7 linked regions of the Homo sapiens genome follow. The protein of the gene in region 6 purifies or fractionates together with the protein of the main gene of each other region. This does not show direct contact. Each region holds a gene or a part of one and is shown on either strand. Other genes may lie near its edges. The genes, in order: PRCC, ASAH1, ECI2, PLXNA3, DSG3, HSF2 and FBXO24.

The links.
Region 1: the proteins of HSF2 (region 6) and PRCC purify together in Homo sapiens (affinity purification with mass spectrometry; one large-scale study listed by BioGRID and IntAct). This does not show direct contact.
Region 2: the proteins of HSF2 (region 6) and ASAH1 purify together in Homo sapiens (affinity purification with mass spectrometry; 2 studies listed by BioGRID and IntAct, with this or other methods). This does not show direct contact.
Region 3: the proteins of HSF2 (region 6) and ECI2 purify together in Homo sapiens (affinity purification with mass spectrometry; one large-scale study listed by BioGRID and IntAct). This does not show direct contact.
Region 4: the proteins of HSF2 (region 6) and PLXNA3 purify together in Homo sapiens (affinity purification with mass spectrometry; one large-scale study listed by BioGRID and IntAct). This does not show direct contact.
Region 5: the proteins of HSF2 (region 6) and DSG3 purify together in Homo sapiens (affinity purification with mass spectrometry; one large-scale study listed by BioGRID and IntAct). This does not show direct contact.
Region 7: the proteins of HSF2 (region 6) and FBXO24 purify together in Homo sapiens (affinity purification with a luminescence readout; one large-scale study listed by IntAct). This does not show direct contact.

What each region holds. Positions count from the first base shown.
Region 1 is NC_000001.11:156,784,535-156,788,034, forward strand, and holds part of PRCC (proline-rich protein PRCC), read left to right. Parts: intron 1-2,073; coding exon 2,074-2,640; intron 2,641-3,500. UniProt on the Homo sapiens protein: May regulate cell cycle progression through interaction with MAD2L2.
Region 2 is NC_000008.11:18,055,492-18,057,799, reverse strand, and holds the end of ASAH1 (acid ceramidase isoform a preproprotein), read left to right. Parts: intron 1-176; coding exon 177-266; 3' UTR 267-1,808; downstream 1,809-2,308. UniProt on the Homo sapiens protein: Lysosomal ceramidase that hydrolyzes sphingolipid ceramides into sphingosine and free fatty acids at acidic pH.
Region 3 is NC_000006.12:4,129,076-4,132,575, reverse strand, and holds part of ECI2 (enoyl-CoA delta isomerase 2), read left to right. Parts: intron 1-1,710; coding exon 1,711-1,809; intron 1,810-1,810; exon of another isoform or gene 1,811-2,015; coding exon 2,016-2,204; intron 2,205-2,214; exon of another isoform or gene 2,215-2,434; intron 2,435-3,500. UniProt on the Homo sapiens protein: Able to isomerize both 3-cis and 3-trans double bonds into the 2-trans form in a range of enoyl-CoA species. Has a preference for 3-trans substrates.
Region 4 is NC_000023.11:154,456,938-154,461,080, forward strand, and holds the start of PLXNA3 (plexin-A3 precursor), read left to right. Parts: upstream 1-1,343; 5' UTR 1,344-1,491; intron 1,492-3,219; 5' UTR 3,220-3,246; coding exon 3,247-3,840; intron 3,841-4,143. UniProt on the Homo sapiens protein: Coreceptor for SEMA3A and SEMA3F. Necessary for signaling by class 3 semaphorins and subsequent remodeling of the cytoskeleton. Plays a role in axon guidance in the developing nervous system.
Region 5 is NC_000018.10:31,468,241-31,471,740, reverse strand, and holds part of DSG3 (desmoglein-3 preproprotein), read right to left. Parts: intron 2,653-3,500; coding exon 2,392-2,652; intron 1-2,391. UniProt on the Homo sapiens protein: A component of desmosome cell-cell junctions which are required for positive regulation of cellular adhesion. Required for adherens and desmosome junction assembly in response to mechanical force in keratinocytes.
Region 6 is NC_000006.12:122,409,652-122,413,151, forward strand, and holds part of HSF2 (heat shock factor protein 2), read left to right. Parts: intron 1-2,721; coding exon 2,722-2,830; intron 2,831-2,985; coding exon 2,986-3,113; intron 3,114-3,500. UniProt on the Homo sapiens protein: DNA-binding protein that specifically binds heat shock promoter elements (HSE) and activates transcription. In higher eukaryotes, HSF is unable to bind to the HSE unless the cells are heat shocked.
Region 7 is NC_000007.14:100,589,328-100,592,827, reverse strand, and holds part of FBXO24 (F-box only protein 24), read right to left. Parts: intron 3,428-3,500; exon of another isoform or gene 3,188-3,427; coding exon of another isoform or gene 3,035-3,187; exon of another isoform or gene 2,852-3,034; coding exon 2,753-2,851; exon of another isoform or gene 2,746-2,752; intron 2,655-2,745; coding exon 2,471-2,654; intron 1,162-2,470; coding exon 926-1,161; intron 46-925; coding exon 1-45. UniProt on the Homo sapiens protein: Substrate-recognition component of the SCF (SKP1-CUL1-F-box protein)-type E3 ubiquitin ligase complex.

The sequences.
Region 1 (3,500 bases), on a different chromosome or scaffold from region 6:
CCTGAGGGTGTGCTCCGCCCTGTACCTCAGTGTGGTTCCTATGAACCGGAGCCTCTGGGCGCTTCCAGGCTGGACCAAATCTGTGAACACACACACAGCAAGAAGAGCCCAGTCTCCACATGAGCAGTTCTGTGTGGCTTGACTCAAATGTCTTATTTACTCTGGGCATTTCTTGGCTGAGAAGGCTGGAGTACACTAGTACTCTAAGACAGTGACACAGTGACCTTATTCCATTCTCCTTTTCCAATTGGCATTTCCCTTAGCTCTACAGTTAGGCCAAACGGGCCTTTTAGCATAGAGAAAGCAGAATCTGAGAGATTCTTTTGGGTAATAGGAACTCTGGATGGGCTGGGCCAGTGAGCTTACAGATCAAAAGTTAAATGCTTGACTCTGGCATTAACAAGCTAATATGCCACATCTATAGGGCTTTCCTTGGGTAGGGTAGGGGACTTTCTTCAGATTAAAAAAATACAGCATATATATATATACACTCATTTCTGGCTGACAAAACTACCTCTGTATGTATGATGGCACTAAAGATACTAAAATTACATATTTTTGTAAAAAGCAGTAATGTCTTAGATTAGGGAAATTTGCAAGCTGAGTAAGTCTGAAAAGAACTGAAGATGATCTTATAAAAACCCTTTCAGTCAGCTAATGTAGAATTCTATGGTCTTAAGTAAAAAATACCCTTAGGCCGGGCGCTGTGGCTCATGCCTGTAATCCCAGCACTTTGGGAGGCCGAGGTGGGTGGATCATAAGGTCAGGTGTTGAAGACCAGCCTGGCCAAGATGGTAAAACCCCGTCTCTACTAAAAATACAAAAATTAGCCAGGCATGCGTGGTGGTGAGCACCTATAATCCCAGCTACTCGGGAGGCTGAGGCAGAGAATTGCTTGAACCTGGGAGGCGGAGGTTGCAGTGAGCCAAGATCATGTCACTGCACTCCATCCTGGGTGATAGAGCGAGACTCCGACCAAAAAAAAAAAATACCCTTAGCACTTAAGTCCTAAGGGAGCTGCCCCACCCAAGCTGAGGCTTCAGGTTCCTATCTAAGGGGGGGAAAAAAAAGAGAAAGGAAATCCTGTTTCCTTTGCTTTGGGGATGGTGACAAGGAGAGCAATTTAAAGGGTTGGAAAAAGCTGTGTCAGGCCCCTTGCAGTCTCTGGACTCACTGCTTCCTTGTTGAACGTGCTGGGCCTCCACTCTTTCCTAGGCGTCATTAGCGCTGCTGAGGGGTCTCGCTCAGGGTTAGCTTTCTCCCTTGGTCAGGGGAAGGGACTTTTTTTTTTTTTTGAGAAGGGGTCTCACTCTGTCACCCAAGCTGGAGTACAGTGGCATGATCTCGGCTCACTGCAACCTCCGCTTCCTGGGTTCAAGCGATTCTTCTGCCTCAGCCTCCCAAGTAGCTGAGATTACAGGCACCCACCACCATGCCTGGCTAATTTTTGTATTTTTAATAGAGACGGGCCTTCAGTATGTTGGTCAGGCTGGTCTCAAACTCCTGACCTCATGATCCGCCCACCTTGGTCTCCCAAAGTGCTGGGATTACAGGCGTGAGCCACCACTGCCCAGCCGGGAAGGGACTTTTGCAACAGTATGAATGTTTCTTTTAGACAGAACCTTGTTCTTGATTTTGGGTAGCATTCCAAAGGAAGGAGAGGGTTCTTGTGTTAAGAGGTCCCTTCAGGACACGGAGAGAGGTTGAGTGATGAGCTGGAGAGACCTGGGCTTTTGGGGAGGAAGGACGATGTGAGGTTAAGAGCATCGTATTTGTTGAAGACACAGAGTTGAGGAAGGCTCGCTCTGTGGAAGAGGGCAGTGGAGCTGGGTTGGGATGGAAGAGAAGAGGAATGATACCTCACCTTGGGAGAAGCAGCCCGCAGAAAGGCCTGAAGTAGCAGGAGTCAAGCCCAGATTAGGTGGTCTGAGTGGACGGAGGTAAGGAAGAAACAAGGGCTGGTAAGATTTTAGGCTAGAGAACTTATCTGTAACTGTTGTTTTTGGTGTTGCTAGTACATAAAATCTCACTTGTCATCTTTCTTTCCTCCTATCCCACACCTGGGCTCACCAGGGATCCAGTGAGGGGACTGGTTTGTCTGCCTTGCTTCCCCAACCTAAAAACCTGACTGTGAAAGAGACTAACAGGTTGCTCCTGCCCCATGCCTTCTCCCGCAAACCCTCGGATGGCTCCCCTGATACTAAGCCCTCCAGACTGGCTTCTAAGACCAAGACTTCCTCTCTTGCCCCTGTTGTGGGCACCACAACCACCACTCCGTCGCCCTCTGCTATCAAGGCTGCTGCCAAGAGTGCTGCCCTGCAGGTGACAAAGCAGATCACGCAGGAAGAAGACGACAGTGATGAGGAAGTAGCCCCCGAAAACTTTTTCTCCCTCCCTGAAAAGGCTGAGCCACCTGGAGTTGAGCCATACCCTTACCCCATCCCCACTGTCCCTGAAGAGCTGCCTCCAGGCACGGAACCAGAGCCGGCTTTCCAGGACGATGCAGCCAATGCCCCCCTTGAATTCAAGATGGCAGCAGGTTCAAGTGGGGCCCCTTGGATGCCTAAGCCTGGGGACGACTACAGCTACAATCAGTTTTCCACATATGGCGATGCCAATGCCGCTGGTGCTTATTATCAGGTGGGTAGGAGGCACAGAGGGCAGGCGAGGGAATGTTGGAACATGGTGGTCAAGGAGAGCTTTGAGCTAGTGATACAGCCTCTGTGGTGTCACTTTGGCTAAATTAACCTTCTCTATTTATTAGGCCACAGAACATACCTTTATTCTGAACCATATTAATCTAAATTGCCCAAGTCTTAAAGTGTGACAGGGTGAACCACATAAATGACATCTTTATTCTGAAAACAATCTATTTATTTTTTATTGATCCATAATATTTGTACATATTTGTGATTGATATATATATATATATATATATATATATATATATATATATATATATATCTGTTTTTTTTTCTTCCTAACCTTTATTTTAGGTTCAGGAGGTACATGTACAGGTTTGTTACATGGGTAAATTGCATGTCACGGGTTTGGTGTACAGATTATTTTGTCACCCCAGGTGATGAGCATAGTACCTGATAGGTAGGTTTTTGGCCTTTTTTTTTTTTTTTTGGAGAAGGAATCTCACTCTGTTGCCCAGGCTGGAGTGCAGTGGCACAATCTTGGCTCAGCTGCAACCTCTGCCTCCCGAGTTCAAGTGATTCTCCTGCCTCAGCCTCCCGAGTAGCTGGGACTACAGATGTGTGCCACCCTAACATGCCCAGCTAATTTTTGTATTTGTATTTTATATTTTTTGAGACGGAGTCTTGCTCTGTTGCCCAGGCTGGAGTGCAGTGGCACGATCTTGACTCACTGCAACCTCCGCCTCCCAGGTTCAAGCAACTCTCCCACCTCAGCCTCCCAAATAGCTGGGACTACAGGCACATTCCACCATGCCCGCTAATTTAATTTTTGTATTTTTAGTAGAGACGGGGTTTCAC
Region 2 (2,308 bases), on a different chromosome or scaffold from region 6:
TTATACTATATTAATATAAATATATACATTATATAACATGCTTTGCATATATTAAGTTATATTATTTAATATTAAATAACTTCTAAAGCAAATTCTACAAGTATAGAAATGCTAATATATATCAGAACATCTCTGAATTGAAAACGTCCTTAAAGTAAAAATAACTTTTCTTTCAGCTGACCGTATACACAACCTTGATAGATGTTACCAAAGGTCAATTCGAAACTTACCTGCGGGACTGCCCTGACCCTTGTATAGGTTGGTGAGCACACGTCTGGCCTACAGAATGCGGCCTCTGAGACATGAAGACACCATCTCCATGTGACCGAACACTGCAGCTGTCTGACCTTCCAAAGACTAAGACTCGCGGCAGGTTCTCTTTGAGTCAATAGCTTGTCTTCGTCCATCTGTTGACAAATGACAGATCTTTTTTTTTTCCCCCTATCAGTTGATTTTTCTTATTTACAGATAACTTCTTTAGGGGAAGTAAAACAGTCATCTAGAATTCACTGAGTTTTGTTTCACTTTGACATTTGGGGATCTGGTGGGCAGTCGAACCATGGTGAACTCCACCTCCGTGGAATAAATGGAGATTCAGCGTGGGTGTTGAATCCAGCACGTCTGTGTGAGTAACGGGACAGTAAACACTCCACATTCTTCAGTTTTTCACTTCTACCTACATATTTGTATGTTTTTCTGTATAACAGCCTTTTCCTTCTGGTTCTAACTGCTGTTAAAATTAATATATCATTATCTTTGCTGTTATTGACAGCGATATAATTTTATTACATATGATTAGAGGGATGAGACAGACATTCACCTGTATATTTCTTTTAATGGGCACAAAATGGGCCCTTGCCTCTAAATAGCACTTTTTGGGGTTCAAGAAGTAATCAGTATGCAAAGCAATCTTTTATACAATAATTGAAGTGTTCCCTTTTTCATAATTACTCTACTTCCCAGTAACCCTAAGGAAGTTGCTAACTTAAAAAACTGCATCCCACGTTCTGTTAATTTAGTAAATAAACAAGTCAAAGACTTGTGGAAAATAGGAAGTGAACCCATATTTTAAATTCTCATAAGTAGCATTCATGTAATAAACAGGTTTTTAGTTTGTTCTTCAGATTGATAGGGAGTTTTAAAGAAATTTTAGTAGTTACTAAAATTATGTTACTGTATTTTTCAGAAATCAAACTGCTTATGAAAAGTACTAATAGAACTTGTTAACCTTTCTAACCTTCACGATTAACTGTGAAATGTACGTCATTTGTGCAAGACCGTTTGTCCACTTCATTTTGTATAATCACAGTTGTGTTCCTGACACTCAATAAACAGTCACTGGAAAGAGTGCCAGTCAGCAGTCATGCACGCTGATTGGGTGTGTACATCTGTGTTGGTTTGGAGGAGGGGGGTTATTATCAAGAAATACAAGCTGAACATCGTATCTGAATTAAATAACAAGGGTTATGTAAGTGGGTTATTAAATATGACTAAACGGTCACAATCTTACTCTTACATGACTGATACCACCTCTTAACCAGATACTATCAACCCAATTTGCAGGTGTTTAAAGGCAGTTTTTCCCCCAGATAGGTGGTGCTTCCACAAAACTTTAGTGATTCCAAGATTACTTTAGTGAAACGAGGAATTATAAGAGGATTTACATTAAAATAGGATTTAATTAATGAAAAAAAAACTTTACTCAGATTTTCTACCTCTTACATAAATGAAGTCAGGTCAACTTGATGTATTTTTTTGTTAATGTAATAACCTTTGATATGCCTGATAGTAAAGAGGTGAGATGCTAATTGTTTCAGACCGATTTCTCCGGAGTAAATCAAAGTTTACAAGAAATAACAGGTATTAAGATTTTAGGAAGTAATTGTTTAGTGGTAAAGCAGTTTTAAAATAGGATATACAGGATGAGCCTGTTTATATAACACTTTATATATGTACTTATGCATAACTAGATACACATCTAGAATATCAAAAGATGACTGGGAGGATATTAACCAAAATGCTGACTGTAGTTCCTACTGGATAATGGCAAGTGCTATTTTAATTTTGAGAGGACAAAACTTAGTAGCCATTGGACATTAATGAGACTCTATTTTTAGAAATACTATAAAAAAATAAGGTCCAGGTTGGATCCAAACCATGGGCTCCATCTAATTTCCCTGCCAAGTTTTCGGGAGTTTGATTGTGAATGGAAGGCTGAATCCTACCTGTATTCCTTCACACATCGAGCTCCTCAGTCACTCATCTTAATTAGAGCTCTTGCTTATCCATTTATGTACCAGGCCTTGTG
Region 3 (3,500 bases), about 120 Mb from region 6:
TATCTATTTTTCTGTCCTATGATGGGTATGAGCTTCTCTTTCATATGGGTGTGTATAGTAAAAAATTTAACCTTGCCCCAGAAGAGGTGTGGCTTTGCCCTCAGCTTCTGGGAAGTGAATCTCTAATGACTGGTAGGAGTCTTTATTTGCCTGGATTGTCTTAACGATGTGATTTAGGGTGGGGGCTTCAGGTTATACAGTCATGCACAGGTGATGGAGCCCTGTTAAAAACTCTGGACACCGAGACTGGATGAGCTGAGCATCTCTGGTTGGCAGGACTCCCTGTGTACTGTCACATCAATTCTGGTAGAGGTGCCCTATGCTGACTCCATGGGGAAAGGACAATGGAAACTCCACATTTGCTACTGCCCCAGACTCCATCCTGTGTGTGTCCTCCCTTGGATGATTCTAATCTCTATCCTTTCCCTTAATAAACTATTAATTGTGCGTTTAACAGCTTGCAGTGAGTTCTGGGTGTCTTTCTAGCAAATTGTTGCACTTGAGGGTGGTCCTGGGTGCCCTCCAGCCTTGCAATTGGTGTTAGCATTGAGGACAGTCAGGAGACAAAGGCAAGCCCTTATCCTGTGGACTGTGTTCCCTCTAACTTCTAGGTTGGCCAACTCTTGCCAGATGACACTATCTCTGTCTAAAGAAATTCATAACCTCCTTTACTGCCTTTTTCTTTTTTCTTTTTTCTTTTGTTTTTATTTTGTTTTTTTGAGACAGAGTTTTGCTCTGTCACGCAGGGTAGAGTGCAGCGGCACCATCTCAGCTCACTGCAACCTCTGCCTCCCAGGTTCAGGCAATCCTTCTGCCTCAGCCTCCCAAGCAGCTGGAATTACAGGAACCTGCCACCATGCCTGGCTAATTTTTGTATTTTTAGTAGAGATGGGGTTTTACCATATTGGTCAGGCTGGTCTCGAACTCCTGACCTCAGGTGATCCACCCACCTCAGCCTCCCAAAGTGCTGAGATTACAGGTGTGAGCCACCACACCTGGCTTGTTTTTCAAAGACTCTTTCTTCTTTCCTCTCTAACTGTATTATAAAATTTTAAAAATTTTAACTGGAATTTTAAATTGCTATTTCTGAAAAGTAGCTGAGTGGGATATTTTATTCATCTCAAAACACCCACTCCACCTAGCCTCAAAAATAAAATTTAATTCCTTTTTGCTTTTTACTTACATGTTCTTCAGTTAGGTTTCCTAAGAACCAGTAGCTCTGATAGCCCCACCCTAGCCCCTCAGCTACAGTTTTGTTACCCAGGTACCAAAAGTCCACCACTGAATTAGTGGTGTTTTTTTTTGTACCTTCAGATGGGCTTTTGGAATATGCTGTGGGTTTTCAAGTATTTGTTGACTAGTTCCTTGTAAAGATTGTTTGCTTGAATATTTTGATTGTTTGTGGAAAATGTGATTACCAATATAAAACTAATGAACCATTAGATTTTTTTAGAAAATACTTCCCCAAAACCTTTATCCTGCATTATTTTCATAGACAGGCAGTTATAATTTATTTCCAGTCTTTTTTCTGTTTGTGCATTTTTGGCAACAACATCAAAGAGACTGGAGGGGAAAATTCAGATCAATTTACATACCCTGTGAAAGGATTTGGGGGAGGCATTCATGTACTTACAGATTTTATGGATCTTAAATATTTAGGGGTCTAGTTTACATGGACATTTGAACATATTGCCCCTCTCCTTTTCACAGGCCACTGAAGGACCTTGTAACATGCCCAAACCAGGTGTATTTGACTTGATCAACAAGGCCAAATGGGACGCATGGAATGCCCTTGGCAGCCTGCCCAAGGTGAGTTTACTAGTTACTGTGCTTTTATTTGCTGTACTTCTAAAGAAGTTTGTGCTTCTCATTAAGCCATTGTAAATGGAGTCTTCAAGATCTTGATGTGCTTCTATTCTTTCTTCATTGCAAGGTGTTAGTTATTAGTATAGTAACTTTCTCAAAGTGCTTATTCATTGACCATGGGCTGAGGTTGTTTGTCATCGTCCGTTCAGGAAGCTGCCAGGCAGAACTATGTGGATTTGGTGTCCAGTTTGAGTCCTTCATTGGAATCCTCTAGTCAGGTGGAGCCTGGAACAGACAGGAAATCAACTGGGTTTGAAACTCTGGTGGTGACCTCCGAAGATGGCATCACAAAGATCATGTTCAACCGGCCCAAAAAGAAAAATGCCATAAACACTGAGGTAATGTTACCTGCCCACGGAGTTTGTCCTGTTTTACTTTCTTCTTCTATGTGTTTCACACAAAAGCTGTAGAGTTTCAGCATCATTCCTATTTTAAGATATCTCTTGTTTGATTTGTGCAGGAAGGTTGGTAATTGTGGCTACTTCATACAACAGAGTTGAGCATTCATTGTTTAGAGTTTGTGAATTTCAGGTAGGTTCTGATATACCCAGAAGGCACTGTGATTTTCCTAATAATGGAAGCAGAAATAAATGAATATAAATGAAACATGTTGCTATGAGAGAATTTGCATAGAAGCCATCTAAGGTTGGTGTAGACTGCTCCCAGAAGTATCTTCATGTCACTTAGACATGAAAGTAAGTCTTTCTGCTTGCACGGGGGCTTCATTTTTTATAAGTATAGGGAGAAAGGAGAGAAGGACTTCATCTTAAACAAATTATCACCCAGCTCCGCTTTAAAGTAGCTGCTTCACTCGGTAACGTTAGTCTTTGAATCTCTCACTGAACTAGAATGATAATAAAATAACTACCTTAGCCCCTTCTTCTTGAAAAAAATTATAGGGAATTAATTGGATGCTTGGTGCTCAACTGGGACTAAAATTTCAGAGGACTATGACCATTGGGTCAATAACCTCCATTGTGGCAGAAAGAGCATACTCACTTTAAAATCATCTTCAGAATTTCATGAAGTAGGATATGTGTCATTCAACTAATAAAGCATTTAATGCTCAAACTTTATTTCCACTTTCCCCTGACTCATTTCTCTACAACTATAATAATAATAGCTACTCTGTACAGAGTGTCTAATGAGTGCCAGCACTCTCCACACAGAAGTTTATTTAATTCTCACAGGGAGCCTACTGTTATCATTACTTAACAATAAAATAATTAGATTAAGAAGTAACTTACTCAAGTTCACATAACAAATAAGCAGCAAAACCTAAATTGAAACCCTGATAGCCAGTCGTGGTGGCTCACCCCTGTAATCCCAGCACTTTGGGAGGCCAAGGTGGGCAGATCACTTGAGGTCAGGAGTTCAAGACCAGCCTGGCCAACATGGTGAAACTCCATCTCTACTAAAGATACAAAAAATTAGCTGGGCATGGTGGTGCGCACCTATAGTCCCAGCTACTCAGGAGGCTGGGGCAGGAGAATCTTTTGAACCGGGGAGGTGGAGGTTGAGCCAAGATCATGCTATTGCACTCTAGCCTGGGCCTCGCAATGAGACTCCATCTCAAAAAAGAAGGAAGGAAGGAAGGGAGGAAGGGAGGGAGGGAGGGAGAAACCCTGATAATC
Region 4 (4,143 bases), on a different chromosome or scaffold from region 6:
TCAGCCTCCTGAGTAGCTGGGACTACAGGCATATGACACCATGTCCGGCTAATTTTTGTATTTTTTGTAGAGATGGGGTTTTGCCATGTTGGCCAGGCTGGTCTCGAACTCCTGACCTCAGGTGATCCGCTCACTTCAGCCTTCCAAAATGCTGGGATTACAGGCTTGAGTCACTGCACCCAGCATATGCCAGTACTTTGGAAGGCTGAGGCAGGAGGATTACTTAAGCCCAGGAGTTCAAGACTAGCCTGGGCAGTGTAGCAAGACCCTGTCTCTCTCTACAAGAATAGGAAAAGTTAGCCAGGCGTGGTGGCACTTGCCTGTGGTCCCAGCTACCTGGGAGGCTGAGGCAGGAGGATCCCTTGAGCCCAGGAAGTCGAGGCTGCAGTGAGCCATGATCCAATGCCGCTACACTGCAGCCTGGGTGATAGAGCGCGACCTCAACTTGGGGGGAAAAATCTGTCTATCTATCTATCTCTCCATATATGTGTTTAATAAAAATGGGCAAATGACTTGAATAGACATTTCTTCAGAGATCATATACAAAAGGCCAGCAAGCACATGAAAAGATGCTGAACACCATTAGTCATCAGGGAAATGAAAAAGAAAACCTTAACGGGGCGCGGTGGCTCACACCTGTAGTCCCAGCACTTTGGGAGGCTGAGGCGGGAGCATCGTTTGAGCCTGGGGCGGTCGAGGCTGCAGTGAGCTATGATCTCACCACTGCACTCCAGCCCGGGTGACAGAGCGAGACCCTGTGTCAAAAGAAAACAAAAAAAGAAAAGGAAAAAGAAAGCAAGGGAAGGAAGAAAGCCCTCGGTTCAGGGTCGCCGGGGAAGGGGCTGGTTTGGACGGCTGTCCCGCAGGCCCTCCGGGTTAGAGACCGTCGGGGGCGTGTCTTGAGCTGGGGACGCGACTCCTCGGCGGGGGTGCACCTGAGAGGCCGGGACCAGCGAGGCCGCGCCCCGGTGGCAGGTGACCCCGGGCGCGTCTCCGAGCGCCAGGGTGGGGCGAGGCGGACGCGCGCCCCAGGCCCGAGGGGGTGTGGCGCGGGCGCGCGCGGGTTCCGGGGTCGCCCGAGGCGGCGGGCGGGGAGCCGGGGCGCGGGGGAGGCGCGCGCCGCGGACGCGGCCATCGAGCGAAGGGGGTCGGCTGGCCGGGCGGGTCCCCCTTCAGGTCGCGGGGGTCAGGGCTGCGCGCGAGGTCCCTGGCCCCGGGGAGCAGCGGCCCCGCCTGCGTCCCCTGCCGCCGCGTCCCCCTCGGCCGGGCGTCCCCGGACGCCCCCGCCCCGCGCGGTGGTACGGTCCGGGTTTAAAAGGCTCCGGCGGCCCCCGGGCCAGCCCAGTGTGTGGGCGGCGGCGGCGGCGGCTGCGCGCTTGGGGCCCGGGGCGCGGGGCGAGGCCGTGGGGACGTGCGAGCGGGGCCGCGGTGGGGCTCGGGGGCGCGTCCACGTGGCCAGAGGGCGGCCACCCGGAGCCAGCGGAGGGACAGGTAGGTGGCCGTCATCGTCGCCGTCCGTGCGGGGCCAAACAGCTCGGGGCCCGGGGCTCCGGCAGCCCGGGGGTCCGGCTCGGCCTGTGGGGGTCAGGCCCTATCCCTGCCCGTCGGCGCCGGCCTGCCCGACTCCTTGTGCCCCGCATGGTGGGGACGCCAACCCAAGACCAACACCCTGCCCAAAGAGGACCCTTTGTCGCAGGGGAGCGGCCCCTCGGAGGATCAACGCTGTACTTCCCTCCCGCTAAGGGCTCCGCGAGTCCGCCGAGGGGTGCCCTGATGGGGCCCGGGCAAACCGGACCAGCAGCACGGTGGGGGGTGTGGGGGGCGGCCGCTGGACCCCCGTCTCTGCGTGGGGCTGCCCCTTCCTCAGGCTCTCTGCTGGCCCAGCTGTACCTGTGATGCCCGAGGTTGCCACTTACAGGTGGGGGCTGGGCCTGAAACTGCCTCCCCAGGTCTCCCTCCCGACCTGTCCCCAGCCTGTTCCTAGGCTTGTGTTCCCGGGGTGTAGAGGAGGTGAAGACAGGATGTGGCCTCTCTTTTCTTTGGCCTTCCTTTCTTCTCCGGCTGTTGCATGAGGGGTCCAGCTGACAAAAGAGCCCTGGAGAGGTGATCAATCTGAGCTGAAACTTTGCAGTTTCAAGCTGGGCCCGCTGCTTGTTCCTGGCAAATGCCTTATTTTTCCTTTCTCTCTCCTGTGCCTCCTTGGTTTGGTTCCCTGCACCACCCCCCGCTCCCCCCCCGCCTCCCGCCCTCAAGCTGGGTACCTCCTATCTCCCCCGGGAGCTCTGGCACTGAGAGGGTAGCGCTGAGCCCTGCCCTGTTGGCTGCCACGACACTGCTCTGCTGTCTTAGCAGCCTGGGGCTGACTGGGTGTGGCCTGGGGACTAAGTGCCAGTCCCAGCACTGTCCCTGTGGCTCCTGCCCTGTCTCTCCAAGGCCTTGACTGTATTTGGGGACATTGCTCCTCCTCTTGTAAGGCTCCTGGGACTCCAAAGGGCAGGTAGGGCCCCCTGTACATTCCCTTCTCCAGTGAACCCCTGGGTCTGGAGGGGGAGCCATGCAGGCTGTGGCTGAGCAGAGCTTGACTGATGTGTGTCTGGGTGCGTGGCTGAGGGGCAGGCGCGACTTGGCTTTGTGTTGCATCGGGGAGGCCAGACAGCGGGCTCCTGGATGGCCAGCTGAGGCCCTTGTCGGGGAGGCAGCTGGGGCCCCTGCAGGGGACATGGTGGTGCTGGATCCTGCATCAGGCCTCCATTCCCCAGACCTCTGTCCCAGGGCTCCTGGTGGCAGTGCCACTCCAGGTGGTGTTCCTGGCCCTGCCCCTCTCCCCCAGCTTGCGATTATTCTGTGCCTGCCTCCCTCTCCCCTCAGCTCAGGCGTTGGGGGCAGCCCAGAGGCCTGGGGCTTGCTGTTCTTTGCTGTTGGTTGCCCCGGGCTCTGAGATGTGGCATCTGGGGTCCCAGTTCCAGCATCTGCTCTGCTACCCCCTTGGGTGTGGCCCAGCTGAGGCGAGGCCTCCTGGCTCCTTTCCAGCATGGGGGCTGAGGGACGATTGATGGCCCCCAAGCCTGCCCTCGCTGGCTGCTCACTCATGCGCCCTGGCGGAGGCCCCTCCTCTCTCCCTGTCACGGTGGCCATCTGGGGCTTTGGCGGGGTGGTGGGTGAATGGCCCAGCCCTCTGTGGCTCGAGGCCTCTGACTCCCACACACCGTCTCTCCCTAGGCCTGTCCCCAGGCGCGGCTGCCGGCCATGCCCTCTGTCTGCCTCCTCCTGCTGCTCTTCCTTGCCGTGGGGGGGGCCCTGGGCAACAGGCCCTTCCGTGCCTTCGTGGTGACAGACACCACGCTTACCCACCTGGCTGTGCACCGGGTGACTGGGGAGGTGTTCGTGGGCGCAGTGAACCGAGTCTTTAAGCTGGCCCCCAACCTGACTGAGCTGCGGGCCCATGTCACGGGGCCCGTCGAGGACAACGCTCGCTGCTACCCGCCCCCCAGCATGCGCGTGTGTGCCCACCGCCTGGCCCCCGTGGACAACATCAACAAGCTGCTGCTCATAGACTATGCGGCCCGCCGCCTGGTGGCCTGCGGCAGCATCTGGCAGGGCATCTGCCAGTTCCTGCGTCTGGACGACCTCTTCAAGCTGGGTGAGCCGCACCACCGCAAGGAGCACTACCTGTCGGGGGCCCAGGAGCCCGACTCCATGGCTGGTGTCATTGTGGAGCAGGGCCAGGGGCCCAGCAAGCTGTTTGTGGGCACTGCTGTCGACGGCAAGTCGGAGTACTTCCCCACCTTGAGCTCCCGCAAGCTCATCAGTGATGAAGACAGCGCGGACATGTTCAGTCTCGTGCGTGAGCCTTCCTTCTCTTCTTCCTCCACCCAGTCCTGGCTCTGCCTCCCAGAAGAGCCCTGTTCTTTCTGAGAGGGGACTTTCGGCTCCTCAGTGTCTGGGATGCAGACAGGTTGCGGAGGGTGGGATGACAGCCTGAACCCAGGTTGCGGGGGTCCCCTGTGTGCAGGGAGGCTGGTCACCCTGCCCTCTGCAGCCTTTCTGGCCTGGGCCTCTGTGATCATCCAGGCGGGAGGGGGATGCAGAGGGAAGCTGGCGGTGGCCCGTGATGTTGGCACAGGGCCTCACCGGATGCTGTCT
Region 5 (3,500 bases), on a different chromosome or scaffold from region 6:
ATTTAAGAATTTCTTAGTTGTGGCTTAAGCTTGGAGGACTCTTCTGGCAGCGTAAATATCTTTCTGTGCACATCCTTGGCAATAAAGATTAATGTCATTCTCATGTGAACTGACCAAGAGTGAAATACTTATTCTTGAAAGCAGGTGTTTCCCACACTTTGTTGTCAGTGGCCCCACTGCCACCTCTGCCCTGCCAAGGCCACCTGAATCCTAATGTTTCAACTCTCTTCACTTAGAGGCAGCTTAGTGAGGGGTTTAAGCATGCAGCCTCCGAAGTCAGATTCTAGGGTTTAAATTTCGGCTGTACCACTTAACAGCTATGTAATGTTGGGCATGTAATATCATCCTTCTTTGCTCAGTTAACTCATCCATAAAATGGGGGAATAAATAGTATCTACATCATAGGTTGTTATGAGGATTGAATTAATATAGGTAAAGGCCCAACTCCTTAATACTATTTTTTTAGGGTTTAAGTTTCAACATATGAATTTTTTTGGGGGGACACACACATTCAGACCATAACAATTAATCTCCCAATCCTCTCCAGGGGCCACTGTAATGCACTGCACACTTGTCCTTTATTTTCCAGTCTCATGTCACAGCTCGAAATCTGACCTTCATCATCTCTCTTGAACTTTTACAATGACCTCTTAAGTGTTCTTTCCTTTCTAATTTACACTGTTATACTGTACACACTGTTGCCAGGGTTGTCTTTCTAAAATACAAATATGATCATGTTAGTCTTTTATTCAAATGCTTTTAGCAGCTCCTCTTTCTCATAGGATAAAGTACAAACACCACAGCATGTGTATGTAGCCCTTTCAAATTAGTCCCAATGCATTCTCTGTTGCTCCTTCACTTTCCACAATTTCCCCGCGCTTTAGCCTTCGAAGGCTGTGTGATTCCTAAAACAGAAAATACTAAGTGTTTTCTGGCCTTGGCTGATGCTGTCAATTTTTGGAAATGCCTTTTCCATTTTTTATACTGATTATATCCTAATCATTCTTCAAGGCTCAATTGAATGATTCCTCTATTCCGTGAAATGTTCTGTAATTACCCCTTTGTAGTAATTTCTATTACAGCTTTATCATGGTATTTTTCCCCTATAGTTAGACATGCATGAAAACCAAAATCAAGTTTCCTTTTCAGCTAGAAGCTAGCATAGTGATTCACATAGAGGTACTTAAAAATTTCTGGTTCTTGAACTTGATTAATACGATATTGAAAAACCAAATCTCTGAGTGTCAATTTCAGCTCTTAAACTAAATGGTGTATAATAACTTTAGAATAGTAAATGCTTTTGGAGAATAAGGAAGGGAAAAATATAGCATGTGTGGCAATTAGCTGTATCTATAGCAATTTATTTCTTTTTAAAAAAAGGGACCTGAAAAAATATTGCAAAACATTCATATCTGTTCAGTTGAAGTGATGGTTGTATGTGTAGTTGTCTACACATTTTCTCTACTTTTTGTGGTTTTAAAATTAATAATCATATAATTAATTTTAACTCTAAAACTGTGATTTTTATAATAAATTAAGAAAGTGTGAATTTAGCAAGGATTTCTCTTGTTTATACAAGAATTAGTCAGGAAGTTCTTTTAAATAGAGACCTCTTACAATCAAATACTATTTGATTTATATGATTTTGATTCAAATACAACTTTTCAGAAACCTATCTATTGAATAAATTTTACCTTTATTGGAAAAGGATACTTACGCATAGTTTTCTAAATGTGTTTAATAAACTTAGTTATATTAAATGTGAAAGTATTAAAGGGGATGCATATTCAGATGGCAATCTATTTTGAGGAAATGCTAGATGAAGCAATAACTTCTCAGAACCTAGCTATCTTAATAGCATATGATATTAATATTAATATCATATGCTATTGATTAATATTAGTGGGGGTTAATTAATTAATTAATATTAATAGCATGTGGTGATATCTTAATAGCCTATGATACCCTATTTGTATTTCCCTAACTTTGTTTGACTAGTGTTCTCTTTTTATCTTAGAATCTCATGAGATGTAATGAATATAGAGAAAACATCTTAGAAAGTGCCACACTCTTGGATAAAGCCATAATTTTGACCATGAACATTACTAACAGTGTGTAGAAAGTCTTCATGATTTGCTTTTCTCTTGATTATCTTGTGCTGTCTTCTAAATGTCTGACATATATAACTTGTGTTGCTATATGAATATAGACTGTTAGCAAGCGACATGTTACACATTTCAGATTCTTTCTGAAAATGCCATTTTCCCCTAGCTTTACCTATAAAACATCAGAGAATATTCTTTCCCCATTGCACAGATGAGCAGGGCAGCATGGAGGCCTTTGCAAATGAGGACACCTGGTCCAACAGAGAATGAAACATTGGCTACTCACACAGCAGCAGCAGGAGACCAAGGAGCAGCAGGCCGATGGCGGCAGGCCCCAGCCTCCCTGAGTGCGGCCTGCCATACCTGGTCCCAGGGCTTGTGGTTGGGTAAGAAGTTCCACAGATGCCCCTGTTGTCACACTGACAGACTTCCAGTGTCAAGCTGCGTGGCATCTCACACCGATTGTTCTGACTGTCTGTAAGTACCAGGGAGATGTGGTATACTCCAGGAGGTATCTGTTCCTGGGCTCTGAGGAGGGCCGAGGTAGCTGTAGAGAAAGAATCATGCAAATCAACAGTAGGACGAAGTGTCTTTTCAGTCTATTTTGTGTTGCTATAACAGAATATCACAGACTGGATAATTCATAAAGAAAACACATTTATTTCTCACAGTTTTGAAGGTTGGGAAGCTCAATATCAAGGTGTCAGAATCTGACAAAGGCCTTTGGACTTCATCATCCCACGGTGGAAGGTGGAAGGACAAGAGAGCATGAGAGCACGTGGGGGCTGAACTCACCCTTATAACAACTCACTCTTACTGTAATGAACCCACTCCCATGGTAACACCATTAATCCATGCATGAGGACAGAGCTCTCATGACCTCATTTCCTCTTACAGGTCTCACCTCTCAACACTACTGCAGTGGGGATTAAGTTTTCAACACATGAGCTTTGGAAGACCTATTCCAACCACAGCAGTGTCTTACACTCTTACTACTTATTTTCATTAGCAGAGTTAGTTGCCACAAACAATAGGGTTGATAATAGAGTGATGTTTGAGCAGTGATGAGGGCTATAATGGGTTCAAGTGGGTAAATCTGTCTACACCTGCCTCCTTGTCCTCTCTGTTGCAGGTAGGCCAATTATTCTCTCCCATGAAACTCAGTTCTACTCTGCTTTTCCCACTAAAGAAGATGGGCGACATCATTTAGAGTCAGGTACTCCTCTTCTGGGGCTTAACCACTCTCTTGTATGTCTGCACCAATCCTTGGACTTGTGTGGCCCTTTGAGTGTTAGTGTTCCTGACTTTGTGTTCTTGTGTTTTACTTATCAAGACTTTCAACTTTGGCTGCTACTACCTCAAGTGCTCTTCCTGGTTCTTATCCCGTGAGCTGCA
Region 6 (3,500 bases):
GCTCTACATTCTTCATTTATGAGTCTGGGTCTCTTCTAAATTTCACAATGTGTTTTTCATCAAAATTGTGTTTCTGTTAGGAAGAAAGTAGAGGAGAGTAGAGATAGAGTAGGAAGCTAGCAGTCTCCATGGATAAATTTATATTTTATCTATATGTCTTCTGGGTTTATTATGTCATGTCTCCAAAAGCTTGCTTGTAAAGAGTAAGATGACATCGAGCTCTTATTTTTCTTCCCAAATGGAAAATTTCTTAATCCTTTTCTTTCCTGATTATCCCCCCATTTGAATGCCATCTTGACTTACTACCTGGTAAATTCTCAGATAGATTTGCTGGTTCATCTGTCCTCTCTAGTCAGTCCATTCATCTATGTAATCACTTCTTCTTTTGTACTAAATTGTTAACACTATAATTTTATAATCTGTATTGGGTAGGGTTAAAATACTCCTCCCCATTGTTCTCAATATTTTCTTTCCTGTTGTTATGTAATTATTTTTACAAATGAACTTATGTACCTAACATTTGGTTATGATAGCATCAATTCATCTTTACTCCACAAATCATTTTTTTAATTAAGACAGAATTTAATGTATTGGTTAATTTAGAGAGAATTGACACCTTTACAATACTGCATTTGTCTTCCTTTTGTATTTCTATAGTTTTAATATTTTTAAAGTTCCTGTATATTTTTAAATTTTATTTTTAGATACTTAACATTTTTCTATTATTATTGGGATATTTTATTCCATTTTAGTTTCTAATTTTTTTAATTGTGGTAAAATATACATAACATAAAATTAACCATTTTAAGTGCATTAAGTTAGATTCACATTGTTAGGCAACCATTACCACCATCCATCTCCAGAACAATTTTTATCTTTCCACACTGAAACTTTATACCCATTTCACAATAACTTCTAACTCCTTCCTCCCCGCAGCCCCTGACAACCACCATTCTACTTTTTGTCTCTGAAATTGGCTATTATGGAAACTTCATATAAGGGGAATTGTACAGTATTTGTTCTTTTGTGACTGGCTTATTTCACAGCATAATGTTTTCAAAGTTCTTTTCATGTTGTAGCTTGTGAGAATTTCCTTTTTTAGGTGAAATAATATTTCATTGCATGTATATACCATACTTTATCCATATATATTTCACCATGTGTTGGTGGATACTGAAGTTACTTCTACCTTTTGCCTGTTGTGAAAAATGCTACTGTGAACATGGGGTACAAATATCTGTTCAAGTCGTTGCTTTTATGGTTTTTTTTGTTTTGTTTTTTTGTTGTTGTTTTTGGGTTTTTTTTTTTTTTTTGAGTATATACCTAGGAATGGAATTGCTGGATTATATGTTCTTTGTTTAATTTTTAAAGGAACTATCATAGTGTTTTCCACAGCAACCACACTATTTTAACATTCCCACCAATAATGCACCAATATTCCAATTTCTCCACTTCCTTGTGAACACTTGTTTTATGCGTTTTTGATAATAGCCATTCTAATGGGTGTGCAGTGGTATATTGTTTTAGTTTTGATTTTCATTTCCCTAATGATTTGTGTTACTGACCATCTTTTTATTTGCTTATTGGAAGTTTGTATATCTTCTTTGAAGAAATATCTACTCACATCCTTGCTCGTTTTTTATCGGGTTGTTTGGGTTTTTTTTGTCTTTTGTTCTTTTTGAATTTTAAGAGTTATGTCTATGTTCTGGATATTAACTCCTGAGGTATATGATTTGCACTTTCTTCTTTCCATTCTGAGGGTTGCCTTTTCAGTCTGTTGGTAGTCTTTAGATTTGATGTAGTTCCATTTGTCTATTTTTGCTTTTGTTGCCTGTACTTTTAGTGTTACATTTAATAAATCATTGCCAAGTCTAATGTCATGCTCTACTATTGTTAAAAGTTTCTTTAGCTCTTGTGTTTAGGTCTTTGATTGATTTGAAGTTAGTTTTTATATATGTTATCAGATAAGGGTCTAACTTCATTTTTTTGTATGTAGATATCCAGTTTTCCCAGCACCATTTGTTGAAAAGACTGTCCTTTTTTTATTGAATGGTCTTGACACTGTTGTCAAAAATCCTTTGGCAGGGTTTATTTCTGGGCTGTCTATTTTATTTCATTGATCTATATGTTTGTCAGTATGCCAGTACCATGCTACTTTGATTACTTTATTTTTGTAGTGTTTCCAGGTGTTTGTTTTTTGTAGAGAAAAACACTAGTGACTTTTAATATTAATTTAGTAACCACGTATCTTACTGAATTCTTAAAGGGTTTTTAAATTGATTTTACAAAGATACAATTATGTCTACTATGTCTACTGCAAATAATTATAAAATGGTACTTCCTCTCAAAATCTTTTTTTTTTATTTTGGTCTTAATTGCACTAGTTTTAAAACAATGTTAATTATGCTGTCTACATAATTGTATTTCATTTTCTCATTGCTGGTTTAATGGAAGTTCTAATATTTCACCATAGAGTGTGATGTGGCATTTGGTTTGAGATATGTTCCTAAACTTTTGAGGTTGACATCAAAAAGCTTAGTTGCAATTTGTTGCTTAATTGCAATTTTGTTTCTTGTTCCTGTTGTCAAGAATAGAATGTTGGTCTGAAGACATCAAGGAGGGACTGGACTACTCAAGACAGTTGTGGGATGTATAAATATATCACCATGTGTCATAGGAACTTAACTAATTTACTTTTTCTTTTTTTTTTTCCCCTTGCAGAATGGCCAAAGTTTTCTGGTCTTGGATGAGCAACGATTTGCAAAAGAAATTCTTCCCAAATATTTCAAGCACAATAATATGGCAAGCTTTGTGAGGCAACTGAATATGTGTGAGTATGGACAGCAGTTTATTGGAGTACCATTATCAGCTACTGATGAAGCCATTTTTTTTCCCATTAGGGTGGTAAAGGAAAATTATTCCATACAAGCACCACCAAATTTTGACTTGTTTATTTTAGTCATTTGAATTTTGAATATTTTTCAGATGGTTTCCGTAAAGTAGTACATATCGACTCTGGAATTGTAAAGCAAGAAAGAGATGGTCCTGTAGAATTTCAGCATCCTTACTTCAAACAAGGACAGGATGACTTGTTGGAGAACATTAAAAGGAAGGTGAGCTATTGTGAACGTGAGCTAATTAGGGTATTGACCTGGAGTGTGCTTGGCCAAGATTTTTATTTCAGCTGTTGAAAGTACAGAAATGCACAACTGTTCCTTGTTGGGATGAATTAGGATAATAAAGTTTTACTTGTTTCCCTGTATTTTTTTCCTAAGTTAGCTTAAAAAAAAAAAAAAGTTTAAGTTCCTGCTAGAATATGAGCTCCCTGGAAGACTTTTTCTATAGTTTGTAATTGTACATCCAGTACCTACAATAAGTCTCTTCTAATAATATAAATATGCCCACATAGTAGGCATTCAGAAATACATTCAGTAATATATTTTTTAATGCATAATATCTTTTGGTAAAATAAGATATTTTACTAAATCTGTAAAAGGGGT
Region 7 (3,500 bases), on a different chromosome or scaffold from region 6:
GAGGTATTTACGGTAAACTGTGTCACACCTTGGGTCCGAGGCAAACTGGGGGAAAAGATGAGGGCGTCTGGGATCTAGAGTTTCAAAATGGGATGGGGCTGGGGCAGCTGGATCCTGGGGTGGGAAGTGAAATGCTTGGGTCCAGAGTTGGGAAATGAGCCCTTGATTTCAGGTTCCTATGTGGGAGGGCAGAAGTCATAGGAAAGACACCTCAAGACTGATGGGGGCCTGGGTCCTCAAAAGAGAGGTGGTGATATGGTTAGGCTCTGTGCCCCCACCCAAATCTCATCTCGAATTGTAATACCCAGTGGGAGGTGATTGGCTCACGGGGGCAATTTCCCCCATGTTGTTTTCGTGATAGTGGGTTCTCACGAGGTCTGACGGATTTATAAGGCAGTTTTCCCTGCTCTTGCTTGTGTGCTCTCGCCTGCTGCCATGTAAGACGTGCCTCTTTCCCTTCTGCCATGATTGTAAGTTTCCTGAGGCCTCCCCAGTCATGTGGAACTATGAGTCAATTAAACCTCTTTGCCTTATAAATTACCCGGTCTCAGGTATGTCTTTTTTTTTCGAGACGGAGTCTCCCTCTTGTTGCCCAGGCTGGAGTGCAAGGGTGCGATCTCAGCTCACTGCAGCCTCTGCCTCCCAAGTTCAAGCAATTCTCCTGCCTCAGCCTCCCAAGTAGCTGGAATTATAGGCACCCACCACCACACCCAGCTAATTTTTGTATTTTTAGTAGAGACGGGTTTCGCCATTTGGCCAGGCTGGTCTCGAACTCCTGGTCTCAGCTGATCCGCCTGCCTCAGCCTCCCAAAGTGCTAGGATTACAGGTGTAAGCCACTGCACCCGGCCTCTGGTACGTCTTTATAGCAGTGTGAAAATGGACTAATACAGGTGGGCTCTCAGCTGCCAGGGTTCTGCTACTCACATCCTTGGCTCCACGACACAACACAACATAGCGACAGGCCCGCTTCCACTGCATCTGGCCGAGGGTGGAGACCAGGGCATTTTTGAGGAAGAAGAGGGTCCCCACGTAGTCAAGAATGAAGACGTGATCCTTGGTGGGCAAGAAGCGGCGGTAGCCGTGGGCTAGCAAGGGGGCCACGCTCTTGCTGAGACATCGGCGGCGGCCTCCAAATGCCTGGAAATACAGGCCCTTCGTGTCTGGAGGAAGGAAGGAGATGGAAGGTTCAAGGGATGAGATGACACGAGGGAGATGAGTTGGAGCTTGGGTAGATTTCTTAGACACGCTGGTTTGTAGTTCCTCCCCATCCCCAGGACAGGGGAACAAACAGACCCCTTATGAAGGAGATGTGGAAAATAAGCTTAGATTATACTCGACATGTGAACTTTAGTCTCCACCCCACCTCAGCCCAGGGTCAAACATTTGCTTCTTAGTGAGCAGTTCTTTGGTGCAACCTTGCATCAGTGATGTTGAGGAAAACTCTAAGAATAAAGACACAGAGGCTGCGTGCGGCATCCACCCCCCTCACCCTGAGCCCCTCCTCCCATCCTCACAGCTCAGTGAATTTTTGCACGCCTGTAATCCCAGCACTTTGGGAGCCCAGGAGTTTGAGACCAGCCTGGGCAACGTGGCAAAACCCCATCTCTACTAAAAATACAAAAATTATCCGGGTGTGGTGGCGGGAGCCTGTAATCCCAGCTACTCAGGAGGCTGAGGCACGAGAATACTTGAACCCGGGAGGTGGAGGTTGCATTGAGCCAAGATTGCACCACTGTGCTCCAGCCTGGGTGACAGAGCAAGACCCTGTCTCAAAAAAAAAAAAAAAAAAAAAAAATCAAAGAAAAAGAAAGAAAAGAGAAGAGACAGAAACAGGAGTGAAAAGGAATGATTGATGAAGGCCGGTCATCCTCCCTCACCCCTAGCTTTGGATCTGTTTTCTGGGTCCCCCTTCTCTTTTAATCTCCCAGTGAGTGTAAGAAGTACACCCTGGGGGATCCCTGGAGGGGAAGAGGGTTTATGGCATGGTTCTCAGGCTAGGGGTGATTTTGTCCTTCAAGGGCATTGGTTGTCACAATTAAGGGGGATGCTGCTGGCCATCTGGTGGGTGGAGGCCAGGGTTGCTGCTTAAACATCCCACCATGCAGAGGACAGCTCCCCACATCAAGGAATTATTTTGCCCAGAATATCAACAGTGAGTTCAGAAGCCTTGGGTTAGAGGAGGGAAAACTCCAGGTTTGGGGAGTGAGGGATGCCTCTAGGGAAAAAGCGGGAAGTGTCTGTGTACAGAGGGAGACTTGGCAGGGAGGCCGCTAACGGGGGCTGTGGGTGGATTCCGAAGACTTGGAGGAAGTACTCAAGGGAGAATGTTTGAACTGGACCCGTTTCTTCCGGAGAAAGGGGCCCTGGAAGCACTGTTGGGAGTGTGGGGGTCATCAGGGGACTTTAGAGAGCAGGAAGGCTAAGGCGGGACAGAGGCAAGGAGAACGGGAGGTTCTGGGGAAGGTGTACAGTTCAGAATGGCAGCTCTCTTCCAGGGCCGGACTCCAGAACCCTGATCTTGGAGGCGCGGACTGAGTCTGCGACAGATGCGTCTCCACACGCCTTCCCCATCGCACACTTCGTGGAAGTAGCGGCAGGTCTGGCCGAGGGCAACAAGGTCTCTGACTGGGAGGAATGAGATGATATGCTCCACCTGGGAGGGAGGAGGGAAGAAGCGGGGAGTCTTTGGTGGCCCCTCGGTGATCTGGCCCCCAATCCTATTATTCTCAATCCCCCTCCCCAAGGACTCACCAGCTCTGGGGGGAACAACTGGATGGAAATCGGATTTCCTTTCCCCCTCTTCTCTTCAACCCCAAGCTCCGAGCCACAAGAAGGGCAGCTTCTCTTCACCTACCCAAGAAGGGGTGCATAGGGTCCCATGAGGGTCCCACATCCTTTTTTCCCTTCTCTCCGCCTACCTTGGGGCTCATCTGACTCTAGCTGGGCACAGTTATTTCCTCCCCTCTCTCTCCAGACCCATCCCTAACTTCTCCAAATAACTCCTCCCGATCTCCTGCGGCCAATCCCCCTCACCCGGAGCCCCTCCTCCCGTCCACACAGCCTGGTGAATTTTTGCAGCTTCCGTCTCTGGCTTCCCCTGACCATCCTGATTGCCCCCTCCCTGCTCCTGCCCTCCTGTCTCCTAGGCCCTTGGCCCCCCCGTTCCTGCTGGCTTTCCCACACCATGTCCCCAGCCTAGGCTTGGGGGACCTCTGAGGCCCCTCTGCCTCCTAGGCCCCTCCCCCATGGAGTCTGGGGCTAACAAACCTCTCTGTGACCTCACTGTTTGGCCACTGTGACCTGTTCCCTTTAATCTTGCCCAGGACCCATCTCTTAGACAGCTCCTGGGTTCTAGCTCAGTTCTAGCCATCACATGGCTCAAGGGATATGCATTTTACTGGAGAAATAAAGTGTGAATTACTGGTAGGTGACATCTTTATTTCAGGGAGCAGGAGGAAGTTTTCCTATTTGAGGCCCTTTTAGCACTAACTCTGTAGAG